Linked DNA regions of Homo sapiens: regions 1, 2, 3, 5 and 6 are each linked to region 4. Evidence: fine-mapped expression QTL. A gene starts in region 4. Each other region holds a variant in brackets. All regions are shown on one strand. Distances are from middle to middle.

Region 1 (4,091 bases), 84 kb after region 4:
AAAATCACAATTTTAAAAAGCAAAGAGCATTATCAGTGACCATGCTGCTTCAATTGGACTATTCTGTAAAAAGACCTGCCACTAACATGCTTGTAGGCAGCATGTCCTCCTCCGCCCATACCTTTGTCTTACTATGCCTATGATTTCCTTAAAATGACCCTCTATTCACTATATGGAGATAATTAAGAAAACTATGGAAAAAAAAAAAGAGAAGAGGAGGAGGGTTTTGGGCTGAATAACACTAGCTGACCTGGGTAGACCGAATAAAATGGTATTATTACTGAGTCCTTCACATACTATTGTAGATTCTATCAAAATTCAGAATTCCAGGGATGTCAGGCTGATTTGCTGAATTGCTGTTTCCAACATCAATGGCTAGGTCTTTTGCTGTCATATGGTGGTAATAATCCATCACCTTTGTCTACAAGTGGACATCCACAAAGTGGTCTTCTAAGAACTGTTAAACACATCCCAGTTTTTTTTCTTACCAAGTAGGAATTTATCATATGATAAGGCAGAAATTTATCTTTGCAGTATCCATGGAGAAACAGAGGCTGACTAAAGCAAATAGGTAAGGAGAAAAGAGACAGATACCATTTGTTTATGGGTGCTATTTTCAAGGACTTCAGAATGCTTCATTGTAATAGTATGACCATTGCAAATCAGTTTTCTGGTCATTTTGAGCAAACCTCCTAAGCATCTTTTTCTCTCGATAGCTTGATTGCAATCAGTGTACATACTTGAAAACAGTAGCAATTAAATTATTCTAATTGAGTATTCCCCCAATCTGGTATTCCATATAGATTTGTGAGGTTTTATTCTACAAATGAAAAGACAAAAGCACCAGAGCAGAAATGTGTAAGTGGCACAGAAATACACACTTTAATGTGTACATTGTAACCTGGAAACATTTCAAAAGCCTAATTTTCCTCATATTGGGAAGGATGAGGCCTTGAAGATGGAATTGCCTCTCTGTTTCACTAAGACGTAGTTTTGAAAACCTAAAATTAGTTCACATCGCAATAACAACAACCCCGGCTTAAGGAATGTAAGAGAATGCCAACTTAAGTTTCCTGGACGTTTTCTCTTCTCAGTGACAAATGAGATTGTTACACTCAACTATTTGGAACCTCGGACAGAATATGAACTCTGTGTGCAACTGGTCCGTCGTGGAGAGGGTGGGGAAGGGCATCCTGGACCTGTGAGACGCTTCACAACAGCTTCTATCGGTCAGTGGAAGCCAACAGGCATTTATTCATGAGCTGGGTGGGAGGGGGAGGAAGGGGAAAGAGGAAGGAAGACCAGGAAGGGTGGTGGTGGGTGAGTGGGTGGGTGGGGATGGAGGTGGCAGGAGTTCGCTTTTGAATGGGTGGGAAAGTGACAGGAAGGCTAGCAACTTCAAGCCAAACTGTTCCTTTATTTGGGTTGGACTCCTGGTCTGTCTCCCTGGGGGAGGAGGTCTGCAGCACTCTGTAGGGACAGAGAAGGAAGCAGATGAGCCTTCAGGAAGGCAGGGCCTCCCCTAGGAGCTGGGATTTACACAGCAGCAACTGTGCTGAGCTTCAGCTCCTGCATTTTATCACTGGCTTCCTGTTTCCATCTTAAGGGCCCAGACCAGGCTCTTGCCACAGGCATATTTTAGAAGTCCCAGTTTATTTATTTTCAAAAATAATTTCCAATTTTTCAAAGTAATTCATGGTCAGAGTCATGACATCAAATAGAATAAGAAGCTTTTATCTAAAGAACAGCATTCTCCTGCTCCACCCTCCACCTCCCAGTCCTGCTTCCTATAGGTAGCCACTTTCATCTCCTTAAGCTATTTCTTATATTTACCTCCCTTTTCTAAATCAGTGGTTCTCAAACCTAAGTGTCCATCAGAATCACTCAGAGAGTTTGTTAAAAGATGTTTCTGGGCCTCGTCCCCAGAGTTTCGGATTCAATGGTTTTGAGGTGAGGATGGGGCCGGGGTTCAAAAATTTGCATTTCTAGTAGGTTCCCAAGTGATGCTGCTGGTCCTGGGTCCACACGTTCTAGATAACATGTGTAAAATTACTTCTGGACTTCTCAGTGGTGTTTGGTATTGACTGGCCTTCTATTGCGTTAATTAACTCTGTGAAGCCTCCTTGATGCTAACCTGACCTCCAGCTTTCTGTTACCCAGGTACCCTCCATTGAAATACTGGAGTGATCTTTTGTAAGGTTCCATTCCTGGTTCTTTGAATTGTTCACTGTGTATAACCATTCTGTTACTCTCTCTTGGTCAGTACTTTATACTTTCAACTTCATATATATTTGATTTATATCACCTAGGAAAGTAAGAATTATCATCTTCCCTATTTTACAGATTGAAAAGTAGAGACTCAGAGTACTTAATAACAGTAAGATGCATCACCATACTAAATCTTCGGGCTTCATATCTTTGTCTTTTAGAGCCAGGATCTTGCTCTGTCACTCA[A/G]GCTGGAGAGTGCAGTGGTTTGATCAACACTCATTACAGCCTCTATCTCCTGGGCTCAAGTCATCCTCCCACCTCAGCTTCCTGAGTAGCTGGGACTACAGGCACACCACCACATCTGGCTACTTCAAAAAATTTTTTTTGTAGAGACGGGGTCTTGCTTTGTTGCCCAGGCTGGTCTTAAACTCCTGCCTCAAGCAGTCCCCCAGCCTTGGCCTCTCAAAGTGTTAGGATTACAGGGATGAGTCACCACTCCCAGTCCAGGCTCCATATCCTTTTGTTTCTCCAATTATTATTTCTACCTAGAATCCCAAAGGCACCAGCTTATTATCCCAGTTCACATATTTGCCTGTGTTTTACTCCATTTACTAAAAGTAGAAGGATATGTTATGATTGAGTGAAAAAACCAGGAAGAACATCCACTTTTCTTCTGCAGAGATTGTGCACCCTTAACAGAAACATCCTTCCTTCACACCACCCACCTAGTTTTTATGTTACTAGCAGCATCCTTAAAGAACCAAATGAGACTCAAAAGCTACTCTGAGACTTATAGAAGCATTACACACAAGTAAGAAATGGCTGCTTGGGGACCCACCTGGTTGTGAATATAAAAAATAAACCCAGAAACTATATAGAGAGGAAAAAGGGACCTCTACAACCATGACCCAAGGGATCCCTGATATGTCATCATGTTACTGCTAAAAGGCAAATGGTAGTTAATTCTCTCTCAAGTCACTGTTGGTGAGTCAAGAGGGGAAGAGCATAAACTGACTCAGATGGAAAGTATTTATGGAACAGAACATAAAACACTTCACAGCCCCACACTGTACTGTCTTCAGCCCTCAGAATGTGTTGCAGCCAGGAGGTCTCTCAGAATATTTCAAAGTAGTTCTCAGGGGTAGGCGGGAAGGGGATTATTGAAGGTTCTTCTTTTCCCATCATTTGAATTTTGCTGCTGTTTGCTTTTCATTTCGTCTGGCAGTTGCACTGTTTATGTGTGTTGATTGAGATGGTGAAGGCCAGGGAGTCCGGGAGGGGAAGGAAGAGAACACTTTCTGAACATAGTGCAGAAAGGGGCAGACAGGGAGGCGTATGGGGTAATCATGTTCCCAAAGGGCGGGAAAAGGGGAAATGACTATTTATTGAGTTACTCTTCTGTACCAGGCACAGGATTAGGAGGTGTAAATGTATTCTCCAAAATATCAACTCCCCATTCTCCTTTGTCATTGCAAACCTGCCTAAACCACTCTGGGTGGCTATTTTGGAGGTTAAACTTCAGAGGTTAACAAGAGGAGATGGCATCACCTCTCTCCATTTGCAAAGGTTACAGAGAAAGGGCCATCAGACCTTTTGCATAATGCCAAGAAAATGCATGCCTAGCTGCTGGTTCTCACTAGTCTGAGGGTAGTCAGAACCAGGCTGGTGGGACTTAATTCCCAGTAGATGGAAACAGACCCTTCCTCTCACCTCGAACCAAGAGTAAGAGCAGTGTTTCTCAACCTTTAAAAAAAAATGTATTGCTCATCCCCAGTGAGCTGTTTCAGATACGTTTATCCTAGTAGATCCTGCCTCCCGTGAAATTTTAATACCACAGATATGCTCTATATCTGTTTCTGTATTATGGTCCTCTGTAAACAATT
Region 2 (4,091 bases), 54 kb before region 4:
AAGAAAAAGGTTGAGAAACACTGGTGTACTGCATGGGCAAAGAGGCAAGGGATTTATGAGCAATATTTTTTATTTATATTTTTGGAAAGGAAACTCCAGAGAGTAAACAAATGTGCTGATGACAGACTATCTTAGAAACACTTCCCCGGGTCAAAGTGGTTCCTTCTGAGATTTTGCTCCTATGTACACACTGCTTGGTAAACTTTGCAACTTCACGGCATATCAGAAGGAACTAGACTGCATCCTCTTCCTGTCTCTTCCCTTGGAGTAGCATTTAGCTTTTCATTGCGGACCTGTTGTTAAAGGAAGATAAACTTTACCCTATACCAGCCATTTTCTCCTTTTATCAAGAAAAATCAATTTGTATGGTTCTTAAATGTATTTCCCTAGTATATATTCAAATTAAACTTGCAGTTAGATTTATATCAGTGTTTACTCCAAATAGTCAAAATATCTACAGGCTAAAAACAGTTCCTATTTCGAGCATTAAAATAGCATAAGCCTTAGTCACTTGTTCAGCTCTTTGATTCTCATAACTATTTCTAACCGTGGTAGAGATAAGAATCCAACAAAACAAAACTCTTTGCAACAACATTTAAGTTTTGCTATATACATATTTGTATTTACGTGTACATACACATATATATTTTTAAATAGTGTATGTCGCTGTGGTTGACTTTTAAAACTCTTAAAGGGATAAAAGGAAACATTCAAGAAATACTGGCTTAATTATACTAACTTTAAAAATTTTGGTTGGATAACAGCCTGTTTTCTCAAATCAGTGACTTTCGAAGCATTGTTTTTTACTCTTCAAATTCATTCATATTCATTTACTATTCAGTATGCTGAACTTGTTACTGGCTCAAAGGTACTAGACTTTCTTACCTCTAGACTTTGCACATGCTGATTGTTTTTGCTGGAACACTTTTACCTTCCTCTTTGTGTGATATTCATAAACCTTAAGCCTTTAATTGAAAGGCATATCTTTAGAGAGCTCTCTTCATCCCTGCTACATGCTTTTATGGCACCCTGTGCTACTCTTTTCATATTTATCCAGTTTATTGTAAATACTTATTTAATTGCCTGCTTCTACCTCTAAAATACAGCTCCCTGAGTGAAAACCATGTCTCTGTTGATTGCTATTATATCCTCAGCACCTGGCACATAGTAGATGCTTGATATTTTTGAATGGAAGAATGAGACACACACAGGTATCCTCATTATTCATATATTTCATATTGTGAATTTGCCCTCTCACTAAAGTTACTTTGTACCCCCCAAATCAATCCTTGCAGCATTTTCATGATCATTTGTGGGCATGTGCAGACTCGTGAAAAATTTCAACAGCCTGACATGCACATTGCCAACAGAAGTTGAAAAAGGCAACACTCTGCCTTCTTATGTCAGTTCTCATACTATAAAGAGGTTTCCTTTTTGCAGTATATTTAGTGGCATGTTTTTTGCATTTTTGTGCTTTCTGTTGGTGATCATGCCATTTAAAATGGCCCCAAGCAAAGTGCTGATGTGCTAAGTGTTCCTAAGGCACATCATAGCCTTATGGAGAAAATGTGTGATAGGTAAACTTAATTCAGGCATAAGTTACAGTGCTGTTGGCTGTGAGTTCAATGTTAGTGAATCTACAACCTATAGTAAATAAAATGTCTTTAAACAAACATAAAGCAAGATTATGTATTGGCTAATTGACTAAAATGTGACTAAAGGCTCACAGGAACTTAACTCTGTATTTCCTTTGGGAGCAATAGTTCAATATTTGCTAACTCATTGTTCACAATAACTTCATAGGACATAACTACCACAGATAGTAAGAGTTGATTATGTGTGCAATTATAAAATTGTGCTCA[A/AAT]ATATATATATAATGTTTTATAACTTGGTTTTTTCCCTACATAACTGTGTCATGCTTCTGTTAAAAATAATGTGTCTTTATCTCATAATATAGATTATATTACTAAGCAAGAAAAAAACTTAAATGTTTGTTAGCATGGAGACAGCTGTGGCTAATAGACATCAGGTTACCTTGATTCCCTAATATATTGGTTACCTGAAATTGGTTATTGAGGGGATGAGTATTTTTTTTTCTTAGTTTATATTATCTCACTGGTTACAGTGAACATATATTTCTTTTACAGATATTCTTAAAAAACATGATTTTTAATAGTTGCATTACATTTCCTTATGTGAAAGGAATAAAATTTTGATTAATTATCACCTTAAATTCTTATGTTTCAGACATTCAACGTCTGCAGTTGGATCTGCAGAAAATGGAGCTTCTAGAAAGTAAGATGACTGAAGAACAGCATTCTCTAAAAAGCAAAATTAAGCAAATGACAACTGATCTGGAGATATATAATGATTTGCCAGCTTTAAAATCATCAGGTGAAGAAAAGATAAAGGTAAATGTTAACCAAGTCTTACAGAATTACAATTCAGATTGTTTTTTTCTTGATCAAATGTAATATATTTGTGGTTTATAGGATTTATTATTTTAAGTTGATTATTTTATATATATAAGTGAGAAAAAATAAAAATGTTTACATATGTAGTTGGAATTTAGAGTGACTTAAAGTTTTAAAGAAAAGCAAAAATTGAAAAGCAAGGTATAAGCTGCTACTTAATACAGAGCATTTCAGCAGATGTGAGCTTTGTTAAATGCAGTTTAGATTATGACTCTATCCTACCTGAAACTTGTCAGTGGCTTTCCATTGCCATTTACATTAATTTAGACTTAATTTGGTAGGGTCGGGAGAGATATGGCAGCATTAATAGAGTTATTAATACAGATAATGTTAACATAGCTTATAGTTCAAAGGATATTTTTACAAACGGGTTTTAGAGTAGTTATAGCCTTGATATAATTTTACCAGAATATAGTTATTGAAATTAAGTTAAATATGATTTATATTGGCTTACTACATATTTTCTATAACCTGTCACTTCTATTTGGATCTTTCTAGAAATTACATCAGGAGAGAATGATATTATCAACCCACAGAAATGCCTTTAAGAAAATAATGGAGAAGCAAAACATAGAGTATGAGGCACTAAAAACACAATTGCAAGAAAATGAGACACATTCTCAGGTAAAAAATGTTTTAAATGACTTTGAAATTGTCTTAGTCTATATTTTCACCCCAAAACAATCAATTTTTTATTTTAAAATTTGCTTTATATACCTTCTAGATTTTCTGACTTTTAAGACAGCCAGATTCTGTACAGTCTTCATTCAGAATGAATGGACTCCTGCTTTCTTACCTTCCATAAACCTATATTGAAAGCCAACTCTGTTAGATACTGTCTTGGGCACAACTGTTAAGATATATGGGGTAGTATATTTTAAAAATTTTGGAAGTGAAACATTACTAATACAGAAACTAAAAATCCATAAAATCACAAATAAAATAAATTCTAATGATTAGTACCCCACCACCCAGAAGAGAGAATGCTTATTGTTGCTTTAGTGTGGGTTCTTTTAGTCAATGGATAGATAGATAGATAGATAGATAGATAGATAGATAGATAGATAGATATGTGTATACACATATTTATGCATATACTTAGGTACACATTTATTTCTATGCATTTATAGAAATTGTGCCATATTGTACATATCATTTAGGAGCTTGTTTTTCATGATTAACTATACATCATAAGTACTTTCCCTTGTCAATATATATATTGACTTTTAAAAAATATTAATAGCTTAATGATATTCTAGTGCATGGATGTCGCATAATATATTGAACCAATTCCCTTTCGTTGGATATTTAGGTAATTTCTAGTTTTAAAACCATTGAAATAATGCTATAAAGAGCAATCCAGGTATCCTTGAACTTCTTAATTCATATCTCCAATTATTTACATAGGATGCGTAGATATATATACCTGCAGCCCCCTTTTCATATCACTCATCTTGCTGATAATTACTTGAACAGTGTGTGAGGTCTAGATTGAGAGCTCTGACGGGACAGAGACAATGTCTGTCTCGTTTACTTTATTCCTTGCCCTGTGGTATTGGTTGGCACATAGTAGGTACTCAGCAATTATTTGTTGAATGATTGAATGAAGCATTATGTGT
Region 3 (4,091 bases), 120 kb after region 4:
AGGGATCTTTCCTAACTCATTTTATGAGGTCAGCATCATCCTGTTACCCAAACCTGGCAGAGACACAACAAAAAAGAAAACTTCAGGCCAATATCCCTGATGAACATTGATGCGAAAATTCTCAATAAAATACTGGGAAACAGAATCCAGCAGCACATCAAAAAGCTTATCCACCATGATCAAGTCTGCTTCATCCTTGGGATGCAAGGCTGGTTCAACATATGCAAATCAATAAACATAATCCATCATCTAAACAGAACCAATGAAAAAAACCACATGTATCTCAATAGATGGAGAAAAGCCTTCAAGGAAATTCAACACCCCCTCAGGCTAAACACGCTCAGTAAACTAGGTATTGATGGAACGTATCTCAAAATATTAAGAGCTGTTTATGACAAACCCACAGCCAGTATCACACTGAATGGACAAAAGCTGGAAGCATTCCCTTTGAAAACCGGCATAAGACAAGGATGCCCTCTCTCGCCCCTCCTGTTCAACGTAGGATTGAAAGTTCTGGCCAGGGCAGTCAGGCAAGAGAAAGAAAGAAAGGGCATTCAAATAGGAAGAGAGGAAGTCAAACTGTCTCTGTCTGCAGATGACATGATTGTATTTCTAGAAAACCCCATTGTCTCAGCCCAAAATCTCTTTAAGCTGATAAGCAACTTCAGCAAAGTCTCAGGATACAAAATCAGTGTGCAAAAATCACAAGCATTCCTATACACCAATAGCAGACAAACAGAGAGCCAAACCATGAGTGAACTCTCATTCACAACTGCTACAAAGAGAATAAAATATCTAGGAATCCAACTTACAAGGGATGTGAAGGACCTCTTCAAGGAGAACTACAAACCACTGCTCAAGGAAATAAGAGAGGACACAAACAAATGGAAAAACATTCCATGCTCATGGACAGGAAGAATCAATATTGTGAAAATGGCCACACTGCCCAGTGTTATCCCCATCAAGCTACCATTGACTTTCTTCACAGAATTAGATAAAACTGCTTTAAATTTCATATGGAACCAAAAAAGAGCCTGCATAGCCAAGACAATCCTAAGCAAAAAGAACAAAACTGGAGGCATCAAGCTACCTGACTTCAAACTATACTACAAGGCTACAATAACCAAAACAGGATGGTACTGGTACTAAAACAGATATATAGACCAAAGGAACAAGACAGAGGCCTCAGGAATAACACCACACATCTACAACCATCTCATCTTTGACAAACCTGACAAAAACAAGCAATGGGGAAAGGATTCCCTATTTAATAAATGGCGTTGGGAAAACTGGCTAGCCATATGCAGAAAACTGAAATTGGACCCCTTCCTTACACCTTATAAAAAATTAACTCGAGATGGATTAAAGACAAACGTAAAATCTAAAACCATAAAAACCCTAGAAGAAAACCTGGGCAATACCATTCAGGACATAGGCATGGGCAAAGACTTCATGACTAAAACACCAAAAGCGATGGCAACAAAAGCCAAAATTGACAAATGGGATCTAATTAAACTAAAGACCTTCTGCACAGCAAAAGAAACCACCATCAGAGTGAACAGGCAACCTACAGAATGGGAGAAAATTTTTGCAATCTATCCTTCTGACAAAGGGCTAATATCCAGAATCTACAAAGCACTTCAACAAATTTACAAGAAAAAAACAACCCCATCAAAAAGTGGGCAAAGGATATGGACAGACACTTCTCAAAAGAAGATATTTATGCAGACAACAAACATGAAAAAAGCTCATCATCACTGGTCATTAGAGAAATGCATATCAAAACCACAATGAGATGCCATTTCACACCAGTTAGAATAGCAATCATTAAAAAGTCAGGAAATGACAGATGCTGGAGAGGATGTGGAGAAATAGGAATGCTTTTACACTGTTGGTGGGAGTGTAAATTAGCTCAACCATTGTGGAAGTCAGTGTGGCGATTCCTCAGGGATCTAGAATTAGAAATACCATTTGACCCAGCCATCCCATTACTGGGAATATACCCACAGGATTATAAATCATTCTACTATAAAGACACATGCACACGTATGTTTATTGCAGCACTGTTCACAATAGCAAAGACTTGGAACCAACCCAAATGCCCATCAATGATAAACTGGATAAAGAAAACGTGGCACATATACACCATGGAATACTATGCAGCCATAAGAAAGGATGAGTTCTTGTCCTTTGGACGGACATGGATGAAGCTGGAAACCAACATTCTCAGGAAACTAGCACAAGAACAGAAGACCAAACATTGCATGTTCTCACTCATAAGTTGGAGTTTAAGGATGAGAACACATGGACACAGGGAGGGGAATATCACACGCCTATCGGGGGGTGGGGGCTAGGGGAGGGATAGCATTAGGAGAAATACCTAATGTAGATGACAGGTTGATGGGTGCAGCAAACCACCATGGCACTTGTATACATATGTAACAAACCTGCATGTTCTCCACATGTATCCCAGAACTGA[A/G]AGTATAATAATAAAAAAATAAAGATACATTTTCTTGCCTAGAACCTTGCTTCTGCTAAGATTACTTTCAAAAGTAAGATTTATTCCAAGGGTAAGAATAATGAACTGTAGTGATACCAGCATTCCCAGAACTATCCGTGGTAGAAGCTAACTGGCATGTTTGAAGACTGCAAGGCTCTAGGTTGAGCAGATAATTTATTGTCTAAATGGAGCTACTTCTAAGAGTGAAGGAGGGTGTTAATCTCACTGGAGCAAGAAGCATACATACCATCCTGGAAAAACCTGGACATAGTTGACCATCACTAGACAGTCCCTAAAATTCCACCTTTTGAGATTCACTTCATAAGGGGTGAGAAGATTTTTTAGTCTTTAAGAAACTTATGTTAAAGTGTAAGCTGTTCTGGGATCTGTGACACCCTAAGCCAATGGTTGATAGCCTTCCATGCACATAAGGTTCCCCAGAGTCATTTGTTCAGCATGTGGGCTCTTGGTCCCCACTGTCAGTCATTGATTCTGTAAGTTTAGGGCAGGTTCCAGAATTCTGCATTTTAATAACAGAGTAGTTCTGAGCACAACTGAGTAAGCACTGTCTTAGGTCAGTGTTTCCCAAACTATGTTTTCACGTGTTGTGCAAGATATAAATACATGATGCAAGGGGAAAGGAGTTCTGCGGTCAATTACTTTGGAAACTTTGTGTTAAACCTGTTGTCTTAGTCATTTCCGGCTGCTGTAACAACATACCATAAACATGGTGGCTTATAAACAACAGAGATGTATTTCTCACAGTTCTGAAGGCTGGGAAATCCAAGATCAAAGCGCTAGCAGATTTGGTGGCCATGAGCCATTTCCTAGCTCATAGATGGCCATCTTTCTGCTGTGTCCTCACGTGGCACTAGGGGCAAAAGAGCTCTTTGAGGCCTTTTGTGTAAGAGCACGAATCCCATTCATGAGGGTTCTACCCTCATGACCTGATCACCTCCCAAAGGACCTACCTTCAAACACCATCACATGGTTTCAACACATGATTTTTGGGTGGCATGAACATTCAGTCCATAGCACCTGGTTAAACAGGCATTTTTTTGTTTTTAATGACAGTGCTTCTAAAAGTCCTGCCTCTTAAAGGGACTTTATGTGGGTGGCATTTTACAAGTTTGAGCATGGGCCCTTTAAGAGACACTAACATTTTGAAATATGCAGCATTCCAAGGCAAATGCTGCTCTAGACACATACCCAGTTCTTTCTAGATGATTGCAATAGCTGAGACCAAGGTCCTGCAGAAACAGTACCGAGGGTAGGAACTAAATCTATGAGGAGTTGAAATGAGACTGGCTTAGGGAGGTGGGAGTCCTCATAGAAACTTCCTAGGGGCTGTACTTTGGTTAAGCTTCATAACCATGCATTGGGTGGCTTCATTCTCTCCTCTCTTTTCCTGCCGTGCCTAGGACTGAAGCACAGTTATAGAATTAACCCTTTAATTCTTTGCTTTCGAAGGTATGATCTAATGAGACAATGCTGGCGGGAGAAGCCTTATGAGAGGCCATCATTTGCCCAGATATTGGTGTCCTTAAACAGAATGTTAGAGGAGCGAAAGGTAAGTATTAAAGTCAGGCAG
Region 4 (4,091 bases):
GATCCTGACATTAGTTATTTCAGAAGCACACTAAGAACTGACCGCACTTCTCAGTGTCACCAAACTATTCTTATCTGTCAAAGTTTCATTTCAAATACTTCTGTAAGGTCTAGGTGTACCCTGCTGGTGTTTGTGATGTCCTACATTACTCTTGATCTACTTTTCAACTATGAAACAAGGGAAAAATTGGAGGTCCAGAGCTCAGGATTCAGATATTATTACCTCTGCTACTCACAGCAGAGCAAGTAACTTAGCCTGTGTGGAACTTCATTTTTCTTTCTTTTTTTTCTTTTTTTTTTTTTTTTTTTTAGACAGAGTCTTGCTCTGTCACCCAGGCTGGAGTGCAGTGGCACGATCTCGGCTCACTGCAACCTCTGCCTCCCAGGTTCAAACAATTCTCCTGCCTCAGCCTCCAGAGTAGCTGGGGTTACAGGTGCACGCCAGCAAGCACAGCTAAATTTTGTATTTTTAGTAGAGATGGGGTTTTGCCATGTTGGCCAGGCTGGTCTCAAACTCCTGACCTCAGGTGATCCACTCCCAAAGTGCTGGGATTATAGGCGTGAGCCACTGTGCCAGGCCCACTGTTTTTGTTTTTTTTTTTCGTGATGACAAATTTAAAGTCATCTCATAGGAATAGAAAATAGCTTTTTAGTAGAAGCTCTTGGAATTTAAATTGAGACTGAATGGAAAGATGAAAGAAAATAAACTTATTAACATTTAATGAGAACCTTCAAAGAACTAGGCATAGTACCAAATGGTTTTATATTTTTAAACCTCATTTATTCCTCTCAAAACACCTGGGAAGGAGATATTTTTGCCATTTCACAGCTGTTGAAACTGAGGCTCAAAAAGACTAAGTAACTTTTCTCAGCTACACATGTGGCTGAGCCAGTATTTGAACCCAGTTCTGTTTGCAGACAGAACCTGGGCTTTTTCACACCTGCAAACTGGAAACATTAATTGGTTCTTAAGATCATCATCGATGTGATAAAACCTGGGACAGAAATTAGTCAAGACTAGCTGCATCTGCCTTTTCCTCTGGTGGGTAGGAAAAGGAGGAGTATAATGATTTCCTCAGGCATGAAGGTCGATGATGAGCAAAGTGTATACTCTCTAATCTAATGTCATAATTCATATTGTGGAGTAATTATCTGGATAAGTGTAGGGTCTCTGACCTCATTCTAGATATTGTACATTCCATGGCTATTTTCATTTTGGTCCATGAACTCTCTTTGCTCTCATGAGCACCATTTTTATCCCAATCTAATCCTGTATGTTTGTGTTTTTACACAGATTAGTTTTTAAATGTTATATATAATTTGCTTCTGAAACACCATTGCTCAATGACTACCAAATCTTTCTCATTACCAAAATCCTTCTATGCCAACTTCTTCAAGAAATTTGATCACCTTTAGATGAATTGTTAATGAAAATTAAAGCTATAGCCGGCAACATGGGTATCTTTGGGCTAATGGCCAACCAACAGGCCATCTGTGTGAAAGAAAACAGGCTAACAATTTTGGACTCTGGTCTCTTGGGGCTACATTGAGCATTGACCTCACCGGTGCTCACTGAAATTAATTGCTTTTCAGGTTGTATTTTCTCATCACGGAAACCTTCTTCTCCCAATTCAAACCATGTGGGTTAAAATGAGAAAACAAAAGCCAAAACGGCTTCCCACACCCAAAAGCTCCTTCTGTCAGAGATCCCAGTAGCCCCGGGAGAGCTGTTAGAAGTCTGAGAAGGATTGGTCATCATCGCATACCATACATAGGTGGAGGGCTTGTTATTCTCAGTTTCCCGCCTATGAGAGGATACCCCTATTGTTTCTGAAAATGCTGACCGGGACCCACACTTCCAACAAAAATTCCTCTGCCCCTACAGCAGCAGCAAAAGCAGCAGCAGAAGCAACAGCAACAGATAAGTGTTTTGATGAATTGCGAGATGGATAGGGCTTGAGTGCCCCCAGCCCTGCTGATACCAAATGCCTTTAAGATACAGCCTTTCCCATCCTAATCTACAAAGGAAACAGGAAAAAGGAACTTAAAACTCCCTGTGCTCAGACAGAAATGAGACTGTTACAGCCTGCTTCTGTGCTGTTCCTTCTTGCCTCTAACTTGTAAACAAGACGTAGTAGGACGATGCTAATGGAAAGTCACAAACCGCTGGGTTTTTGAAAGGATCCTTGGGACCTCATGCACATTTGTGGAAACTGGATGGAGAGATTTGGGGAAGCATGGACTCTTTAGCCAGCTTAGTTCTCTGTGGAGTCAGCTTGCTCCTTTCTGGTAAGGTTTGGCTTTATTTTTTTTAATTTAGTATTTTAAAAAACAGAGTTAGTGATTTCTGGGTGCTCTCCCCAAATCTCATCAGTGCTGATGAACAAGGGGTGGCTGTAGCAAAGGCACCATTTCTCTGTGAGTCTCCAGTCAATATGTGTGGAAGGATTGAAATGCAAAGGCTCTGTGGCATGAACTGATTTTGCTAGTTTGTCTTCTGGGTGATTGGCCCCTGTGTTAGAAACTCTTTGAGGACCGATTAAATCATCTTATTTGAAGAGATCCCCTTACTATCATGCATTATTTTCCTGCTCCTCATTCTGGAGTGTTTTTCTTATTGATTTTTTTTTTAAAGAACAAACCGGTTTTACCTGCTTTAAAGAAAATCTTCAGTAAAAAATGAAATTCATGCTGAGAAATACAGGGGCCCAATTAAGGCAGTGTATAGATTGTCACTGTTAAAAGGGAACAAAGATGCTTTTCTGTAAAAAGATTTTATATCTACATCCTATTTTAAGCAAAGCAATGAAATTGTAGGCTTTTTTTTTTTTCTTGTAGTTAGGGTCAGGGAGATTGGGGCTATTAGAATTTTTGTTTTATTTTAAAAAATGTTTGCCATGTAGTAATTCATAAAGGGTTTACTGGCCCAATGAAACAAAAATTTAGGCAGTTACCAAAATCTTTAACACAGGAGAGTATATGAAGCCTGTTGTAGAGTGAAGGAGTGGTTGGCCAGTGTGTTGGGTTCAGCGTGTTTATTGCTTAGATACTCCAGATAGTGGTGTGCCTCTGTAGCTCACTCAGCCTATGTGACATAGGTAGAAGGCAGTATCCAAACCTGAACTACATATCACAAATACATTTATCATTGCCATCAGTCTCTCCCCTTCGGTTTGAAAACATTCTAATTTTAATAACGAAAATCGAATTGATATTGGAGATGAATTTGGGAAAATTCACTAAACTTCATGGATATAGGGCATATTAATATAATTTGATTCGAGTATACATAAGTATCTGCTATATTTTCTAGGTGTTTGAACTATTTTATTAAATATTCAAAAAACAAATCCAATGAAATAACTGAGTTGAATACAGTTTGTTTTATAGCTCTCAACAACCAATATTTTGAGAATTTAATAATATTCTTTAAGAATGTGTAACACAAGTTGCTAAAAATTAAAAGATTTTAGGTGGCTTCAGTATTTATGTGGAAATTGTTTAAATAATGTTGACTTCTCCAATAATATGTACTTCAAATAATTATCATGATTCCATTTTTGATTTTTTTTTTTCTGAGTGCCATTATTTACCAGTGACATGAAATCTGGAACTTACTCTATACCAGGGATTATAGTGATGTGAAGCCCAGGTGTCTATAGTTTCTCTGAGGTACTTTGTAGGTTAATACACACACAACTGTTTTCATTCACTTTTTTTACTCCTAAAGCAACTGTGTTATAGCACTTTGCAATACAGGCTTAGAAGAATTGTCATAAAATCAAACAAAAAGGTATGTAGCCAAAATACTTGTTCCATGTCTAGACCTCAGATCCCTGGAAAAAACAGCACTGCCTTTAAAAGGCAGAGGACCAAGGAGAGGAAGTAGGTTCATGTTCTTGTTAGGAAGGGTGACACTAGCAAGGTTAGTTTCTGAGGTAGGTCTGTTGTCTTGATCGTAGCTTGCATTCCTAGTCTAAGCCTCCATGAGCATGACTGCTCAAGGCTTGATAATTGCAACAAGAATCCAGCTAGATAATGTCCACAGCCATAGGAGCCCGTTCCTCTAGTCAAACTCCTGGTAGACTAAAG
Region 5 (4,091 bases), 130 kb after region 4:
CTGAGAGATTTTATCACCACTAGGCCTGCCCTAAAACAGCTCCTGAAGGAAGCACTAAACATGGAAAGGAACAACCAGTACCAGCCACTGCAAAAACATGCCAAATCGTAAAGACCATCAAGGCTAGGAAGAAACTGCATCAACTAATGAGCAAAATAACCAGCTAACATCATAATGACAGGATCAAATTCACACATAACAATATTAACCTTAAATGTAAATGGGCTAAATGCTCCAAATAAAAGACACAGACTGGCAAATTGGATAAAGAGTCAAGACCCATCAGGGTGCTTTATTCAGGAAACCCATCTCACGTGCAGAGACACACATAGGCTCAAAATAAAGGGATGGAGGAAGATCTACCAAGCAAATGGAAAACAAAACAAGGCAGGGGTTGCAATCCTAGTCTCTGACAAAACAGACTTTAAACCAACAAAGATCAAAAGAGACAAAGAAGGCCATTACATAATGGTAAAGGGATCAATTCAACAAGAAGAGCTAACTATCCTAAATCTATATGCACCCAATACAGGAGCACCCAGTTTCATAAAGCAAATCCTTAGAGACCTACAAAGAGACTTAGACACCCACACAATAATAATGGGAGACTTTAACACCCCACTGTCAACACTAGACAGATCAACGAGACAGAAAGTTAACAAGGGTGTCCAGGAATTGAACTCAGCTCTGCACCAAGCAGACCTAATAGACATCTACAGGACTCTCCACCCCAAACCAACAGAATATACATTCTTTTCAGCACCACACCACACCTATTCCAAAATTGACCACATACTTGGAAGTAAAGCACTCCTCAGCAAATGTAAAAGAACAGAGATTATAACAAACTGTCTCTCAGACCACAGTGCAATCAAACTAGAACTCAGGATTAAGAAACTCACTCAAAACAGCTCAACTACATGGAAACTGAACAACCTGCTCCTGAATGACTACTGGGTACATAACGAAATGAAGGCAGAAATAAAGATGTTCTTTGAAACCAATGAGAACAAAGACACAACATACCAGAATCTCTGGGACACATTCAAAGCAGTGTGTAGAGGGAAATTTATAGCACTAAATGCCCACAAGAGAAAGCAGGAAAGATCTAAAATTGACACCCTAACACCACAATTAAAAGAACTAGAGAAGCAAGAGCAAACACATTCAAAAGCTAGCAGAAGGCAAGACATAACTAAAATCAGAGCAGAACTGAAGGAAATAGAGACACAAAAAAGCCTTCAAAAAAATCAATGAATCCAGGAGCTGGTTTTTTGAAAAGATCAACAAAATTGATAGACCGCTAGCAAGACTAATAAGGAAGAAAACAGAGAAGAATCAAATAGATGCAATAAAAAATGATAAAGGGGATATCACCACCAATCCCACAGAAATACAAACTACCATCAGAGACTACTATAAACACCTCTATGCAAATAAACTAGAAAATCTAGAAGAAATGGATAAATTCCTCGACACATACACCCTCCCAAGATTAAACCAGGAAGAAGTTGAATCTCTGAATAGACCAGTAACAGGCTCTGAAATTGAGGCAATAATTAATAGCTTACCAACCAAAAAAAGTCCAGGACCAGATGGATTCACAGCCGAATTCTACCAGAGGTACAAGGAGGAGCTGGTATCATTCCTTCTGAAACTATTCCAATCAACAGAAAAAGAGGGAATCCTCCCTGACTCATTTTATGAGGCCAGCATCATCCTGATACCAAAGCCTGGCAGAGACACAACAAAAAAAGAGAATTTTAGATCAATATCCCTGATGAACATTGATGCAAAAATCCTCAATATAATACTGGCAAACCGAATCCAGCAGCACATCAAAAAGCTTATCCAACATGATCAAGTGGGCTTCATCCCTGGGATGCAAGGCTGGTTCAACATAAGCAAATCAATAAACGTAATCCAGCATATAAACAGAACCAACGACAAAAACCATATGATTATCTCAATAGATGCAGAAAAGGCCTTTAACAAAATTCAACAACCCTTCATGCTGAAAACTCTCAATAAATTAGGTATTGAAGGGATGTATCTCAAAATAATAAGAGCTGTCTATGACAACCCCACAGCCTATATCTTACTGAATGGGCAAAAACTGGAAGCATTCCCTTTGAATACTGGCACAAGACAAGGATGCCCTCTCTCACCACTCCTATTCAACATAGTGTTGGAAGTTCTGGCCAGGGCAATCAGGCAGGAGAAAGAAATAAAGGGTATTCAGTTAGGAGAAGAGGAAGTCAAATTGTCCCTGTTTGCAGATGACATGATTGTATATCTAGAAAACCCCATTGTCTCAGCCCAAAATCTCCCTAAACTGA[T/C]AGGCAACTTCAGCAAAGTCTCAGTATACAAAATCAATGTGCAGAAATCACAAGCATTCTTATACACCAATAACACACAAACAGAGAGCCAAATCATGAGTGAACTCCCATTCACAATTCCTTCAAAGACAATAAAATACCTAGGAATCCAACTCAAAAGGGATGTGAAGGACCTCTTCAAGGAGAACTACAAACCACTGCTCAATGAAATAAAAGAGGATACAAATACATGGAAGAACAATTCCATGCTCATGGGTAGGAAGAATCAACAATGTGAAAATGGCCATAGTGCCCAAGGTAATTTATAGATTCAATGCCATCCCCATCAAGCTACCAATGACTTTCTTCACAGAATTGGAAAAAACTACTTTAAAGTTCATATGGAACCAAAAAAGAGCCCTCATTGCCAAGTCAATCCTAAGCCAAAAGAACAAAGCTGGAGGCATCACACTACCTGACTTCAAACTATACTACAAGGCTACAGTAACCAAAACAGCATGGTACTGTTACCAAAACAGAGATATAGACCAACGGAACAGAACAGAGCCCTCAGAAATAACGCCGCATATCTACAACCATCTGATCTTTGACAAACCTGACAAAAACAAGCAATGGGGAAACAATTCCCTATTTAATAAATGGTACTGGGAAAACTGGCTAGCCATATGTAGAAAGCTGAAACTGGATCCCTTCCTTACACCTTATACAAAAATTAATTCAAGATGGATTAAAGACTTAAATGTCAGACCTAAACCCATAAAAACCCTAGAAGGAAACCTAGGCAATACCATGCAGGACATAGGCATGGGCAAGGACTTCATGTCTAAAACACCAAAAGCAATGGCAACAAAAGCCAAAATTGACAAATGGGATCTAATTAAACTAAAGAGCTTCTGCACAGGAAAAGAAACTACCATTGGAGCGAACAGGCAACCTACAGAATGGGAGAAAATTTTTGCAATCTACTCATCTGACAAAGGGCTAATATCCAGAATCTACAATGAACTCAAACAAATTTACAAGAAAAAAAACAAACAACCCCATCCAAAAGTGGCCAAAGGATATGAACAGACACTTCTCAAAAGAAGACGTTATGCAGCCAAAAGACACATGAAAAAATGCTCATCATCACTGGCCATCAGAGAAATGCAAATCAAAACCACAATGAGATACCATCTCACACCAGTTAGAATGGCGATCATTAAAAAGTCAGGAAACAACAGGTGCTGGAGAGGATGTGGAGAAAAAGGAACACTTTTACACTGTTGGTGGGACTGTAAACTAGTTCAACCATTGTGGAAGTCAGTGTGGTGATTCCTCAGGGATCTAGAACTAGAAATACCATTTGACTCAGCCATCCCATTACTGGGTATATACCCAAAGAATTATAAATCATGCTGCTATAAAGACACATGCACATGTAAGTTTATTGAGGCACTATTCACAATAGCAAAGACTTGGAACCAACCCAAATGTCCAACAATGATAGACTGGATTAAGAAAATGTGGCACATATACACCATGGAATACTATGCAGCCATAAAACATGATGAGTTCATGTCCTTTGTAGGGACATGGATGAAGCTGGAAACCATCATTCTCAGCAAACTATAACAAGGACAAAAAACCAAACACCGCCTGTTCTCACTCATAGGTGGGAATTGAACAATGAGAACACATGGACACAGGAAGGAGAACATCACACACCGGGGCCTGTTGTGGGGTGGGGGCAGGGGGAGGGATAGCATTAGG
Region 6 (4,091 bases), 100 kb after region 4:
TTGGATTTTAAAAATAATTATAAGAAGCTTTCATGCGATAGTGCTTTGTTTTTATCCAGAATGCTTTCATGTACAATTACAATGGAGCTTTACAACTATCCTGTGTTGCACATGCATTTAAAGTTAAATTTATGTTATTAATTCAAATGTTTATTGAGTACTTTCTACTGTAATGCATGTAATTACTGGTGAGTGAGTAGGTAACAACAAAAATCCTCTATGGGTTTACCTCTGCATGCAGCATGGCCTTGTAGTTCTGAATCTCTGCTTAAACTTCACTTCTCGTGGAAAAGTTTGCTCCCACAAAAAGCTCCATGCAGTAATTATTTACAAACTTGACAGCCTCTTGTTGACTTTGCAGCACAAACACCAACAATAGAAAAGAGACTACTTCCATTTCCTCAATTTATTAAACTAAAAATACTGGTGCTTCAAACAATTTATCATTCTATGATCCAATAAGGGTGTAATTCTGAAAGCCAGATCATGTCCCTTAGGTTAAATAATGAAGTAATGACATTTATTTTTTGAGCTACTTCCTGAAAACAGTAATGAGCATGGCACAGGAGTGTAAATGAAAGTTACACACACACACACATACCACACACACACACACACCCTGCTGTCCTTGCTGATAGCACTCCCACAAACATGGTGAGTGTTCTTAAAACCCGCCTGACTTTCTGTACAAACCCTACAAATGACACAGTACAAAAGGGCAAGGATTCTCTGGATGCCCAGGGAAAGTGGTGTTATGACAGGAAGCCAAGTGGCCGTGGTGGACAGACTAAACCAGTTTTCTGGAAAAAGGCTAAAACTACAAAGAAGACTGTGCTGAGGCTTTAGTGTTGACCCCACTGCAGATCTAAGAGAATGCTGGCTCTTAAGGGATCCAGGCACTTTGCACTAGGAGGAGATAAGAAGAGAAATGGCCAGTTGATCCAGTTCTAAGTTTCAGCTTTTGTTTTATTCTGAGGACAATAAAATCTTGAGGTTACGTTTACTTCATCTGGTTGCAGTTGGTCTTTAGGGAGAGAATAAACCATGATATTAATGCAGCTTCCTTCTTGGGAAAAAAAACCACAACAACAAAAATATATCCCTTAAAATTTTGCTTCGTCATCACATTAGCACATAGCTGGCTCTTAAAATTTTAAGATAGGCCGGGCGTGGTGGCTCACGCCTATAATCCCAGCACTTTGGGAGGCCGAGGCAGGCAGATCACAAGGTCAAGATGTCGAGACCATCCTGGCCAACCAACATGGTGAAACCCTGTCTCTACTAAAAATACAAAAAATTAACTGGGCCTAGTGGCGCATGCCTGTAGTCCCAGCTACTCGGGATGCTGAGGCAGGAGAATCGCTTGAACCTGGGAGGCGGAGGTTGCAGTGAGCCGAGATCGCACCACTGCACTTCAGCCCAGGCGACAGAGAGAGACTCAGTTTAAAAAAAAATATATATATATATGAATATATATGTATGAATATATGTATGTGTATATATATATATGAATATATGTATATATATGAATATATGTGTATATATATGAATATATGTGCATATATATGTATTTAAGGTAAATTACCTTTATCTTTAT[TAATA/T]AATACATATTTAAATTATTTTAAAATAATTCAGTAAAGATGTGAGAAAGCACATGTATACCATAATTTAGGTCTAACTTTCATTATAGTGCAACAGGTTTCAATATTACTTTTCTTTTTTGCTAGAATTTCAATTTCTTAGAAGATCTTTCAAGCTTTTTTTTTTTTTTTTTTTTTTGAGATAGATAGATAGATAGATAGGGTCTCACTCTGTTGCCCAGTCTGGAGTGCAGTAGCACGATGTCAGCCCACTGCAACCTCCCCATCCCTGGGCTCAAGCAGTCTTCCCACTTCAGCCTAAGTACTCCCAAGTAGCTGGGACTACAGGGATGCACCACCATGCTTGGCTAATTTTTATTTTATTTTTATTTTTTGTAGAGATTAGGTCTCAGTATACTGCCCAAGCTGGTCTCAAACTCCTGGGCTCAAGCAATCCATCTGCCTTGGCCTCCCAGAGTGCCGGGATTACAAGTGTGAGCCACTGCACTGGGCTTCAAGTTCTAATTCATACATCATTTTAAAAACATGGTTTGCCCAAAAAATTCTTCTTTAAAAAAAACCAGTAAAATAACTTTAACTTTACATTTTTAGTAGGTATAAATGTCGATGTTTTTAGCAAGTAAATTCCCTTTAAAAAAATTTTCGCAAGGGGATAATTTATTTTTTAAAAATTCCAAGAAAACAAAAGTAACAAAACTGGGCAAATAACGTTTTATTAAAAAAAAAAAGAGAGAGAGAAATGATGTGGAACAAAAAAGTGACAATGAACCATAAGTTTTTCTAGGAACTATTGTTTTATTTTTTCCTAAAAGCTTGAGTTTTCTGGTATCTTGAAGCAAAATGCAATCTTTGAAACTAACCTCTGGTGGCCAGAGACCCAATCAGCAATATGGTGACTTAGGATGGGTTTTGAGGAGGAGTAGAAGGCAGGAGAGACAATTACCTGTTGTGGCTCCTTCCACATGGATATTTAATTGTTGAAAAATAATAACAACCTCAGGAATAGCTAGAGGCAGACTAGAATAACATGCCTGGCTCATGTTACTAAGCTCCTTGATCAAAATGGAATGCAAATGAAAAGGTGACGTGAAGAACGTGTCTGAGATCTGGAAGAGCATGCTTTGACTCACTCTACTGTTATTACTGAGTGGGTAAAAGCATTTCAGGAAGCCCTCTGTGTGAGTGCAGGTTTGGTAGGAATGGAGAGGGGGTGGGAAGGAGCAAAACCAAGCGTTGCAGCCTGGCCCCTTTTGAGTATTGCAGGAGGGTGTCACCCGTCTTCCTCCTGTCCCCCAGTGCTCCCTGGGTGGTGTTGCTAGATGTGTTTTTTAGACAAAATGGAGTTTATAGGCAATTTCCACAGCACATCTCTTAAATGTCATAGCTGTTCAGGGCCACTGATGAGTCGATGCTCTCTTCCTTCCCTCCAGGCTACTTGTACCTGGCCATTGAGTACGCGCCCCATGGAAACCTTCTGGACTTCCTTCGCAAGAGCCGTGTGCTGGAGACGGACCCAGCATTTGCCATTGCCAATAGCACCGCGTCCACACTGTCCTCCCAGCAGCTCCTTCACTTCGCTGCCGACGTGGCCCGGGGCATGGACTACTTGAGCCAAAAACAGGTTTGTCCGGAGGACTTCGCTTTGGATATCTTTCCTGTGGAGTTCCCTCTAAAGTCAGTTTCAATATGTTTGTAGGGTCTGTCAACCTCTCTTCTTTAACTCCTTCTTAAAATCTCCCTCATTTTAATCTCTCTGTGAATAGTCCATCTATTTAAAGAAAAATTAGTACTGACAATATGTTTATCTAGCAATTTTCATAATTATGAAAATTGTATAATTTTCTTCTATCTAATTTCATATATGCAAATTTTATAATTTTCCTAATACGTAGCGAGGTACCTTAAGCTCTCTTAGCCTGGTTTGCCTCTAAATAATGTGTAATAACAGAGACACACTACATTACAGCTGGAGGATTTAACAACCTGTGTTTTTTATTTGTTCGTTTTCTGAAATTCTTCTGCCAAGATGTGGTGTGTCATTTGGCAGAATCCATTACCAGGGAATTTTGGAGGGGAACTTTAAGGGAACTGGATTGTGACTGTTTAAAATCCTTTTTTATACTATTGTTTTCTTTCCTGTTCCCCAAAGTTTTCAGCCCTGGGGCTTTCATTAGGCTGAAAATACATAATGTTTTCAAAAATTTCAGTTTATCCACAGGGATCTGGCTGCCAGAAACATTTTAGTTGGTGAAAACTATGTGGCAAAAATAGCAGATTTTGGATTGTCCCGAGGTCAAGAGGTGTATGTGAAAAAGACAATGGTAAGTGCCAGACACAGACACTGATCGCATCCTTTCCGAGGTACTCCCCTGTCTCCTGATGTTGCTTCTGAGACTGTCAGTGCTCTGTGGTGACTGAAGCATCTGACTGTATGTCCCAGTAGATACTGTGTGCCCTGGGAAACATTCTTTCTAAATGTTGGTTCCTAAC

What was found.
Region 1: its variant is fine-mapped to the expression of TEK in whole blood (INTERVAL, PIP above 0.99). The same link has a PIP of 0.9 or more in neutrophils.
Region 2: its variant is fine-mapped to the expression of TEK in whole blood (TOPMed, PIP 0.98).
Region 3: its variant is fine-mapped to the expression of TEK in whole blood (TOPMed, PIP 0.97).
Region 5: its variant is fine-mapped to the expression of TEK in whole blood (INTERVAL, PIP above 0.99).
Region 6: its variant is fine-mapped to the expression of TEK in whole blood (INTERVAL, PIP above 0.99).

What each region holds. Positions count from the first base shown.
Region 1 is chr9:27,191,395-27,195,485 of GRCh38, forward strand. TEK (TEK receptor tyrosine kinase) reads left to right here. Exons shown (of 23, transcript NM_000459.5): 11 at 1,095-1,229. Among named protein-coding and RNA genes, the nearest start is that of TEK, 84 kb to the left of the region's middle. The variant A/G (reference allele first, on the strand shown) is at 2,455.
Region 2 is chr9:27,053,364-27,057,454 of GRCh38, forward strand. It overlaps IFT74 (intraflagellar transport 74), which reads left to right. Exons shown (of 20, transcript NM_025103.4): 17 at 2,246-2,409; 18 at 2,971-3,096. Among named protein-coding and RNA genes, the nearest start is that of LRRC19, 50 kb to the left of the region's middle. The variant A/AAT (reference allele first, on the strand shown) is at 1,863.
Region 3 is chr9:27,224,236-27,228,326 of GRCh38, forward strand. TEK (TEK receptor tyrosine kinase) reads left to right here. Exons shown (of 23, transcript NM_000459.5): 22 at 3,971-4,070. Among named protein-coding and RNA genes, the nearest start is that of EQTN, 71 kb to the right of the region's middle. The variant A/G (reference allele first, on the strand shown) is at 2,480.
Region 4 is chr9:27,107,355-27,111,445 of GRCh38, forward strand. TEK (TEK receptor tyrosine kinase) reads left to right here and starts at 1,871. Exons shown (of 23, transcript NM_000459.5): 1 at 1,871-2,288. The coding sequence starts at 2,237.
Region 5 is chr9:27,241,306-27,245,396 of GRCh38, forward strand. No RefSeq gene overlaps it. Among named protein-coding and RNA genes, the nearest start is that of EQTN, 54 kb to the right of the region's middle. The variant T/C (reference allele first, on the strand shown) is at 2,340.
Region 6 is chr9:27,209,676-27,213,766 of GRCh38, forward strand. It overlaps TEK (TEK receptor tyrosine kinase), which reads left to right. Exons shown (of 23, transcript NM_000459.5): 17 at 3,032-3,222; 18 at 3,809-3,922. It also overlaps the pseudogene RPL36AP34. Among named protein-coding and RNA genes, the nearest start is that of EQTN, 85 kb to the right of the region's middle. The variant TAATA/T (reference allele first, on the strand shown) is at 1,598.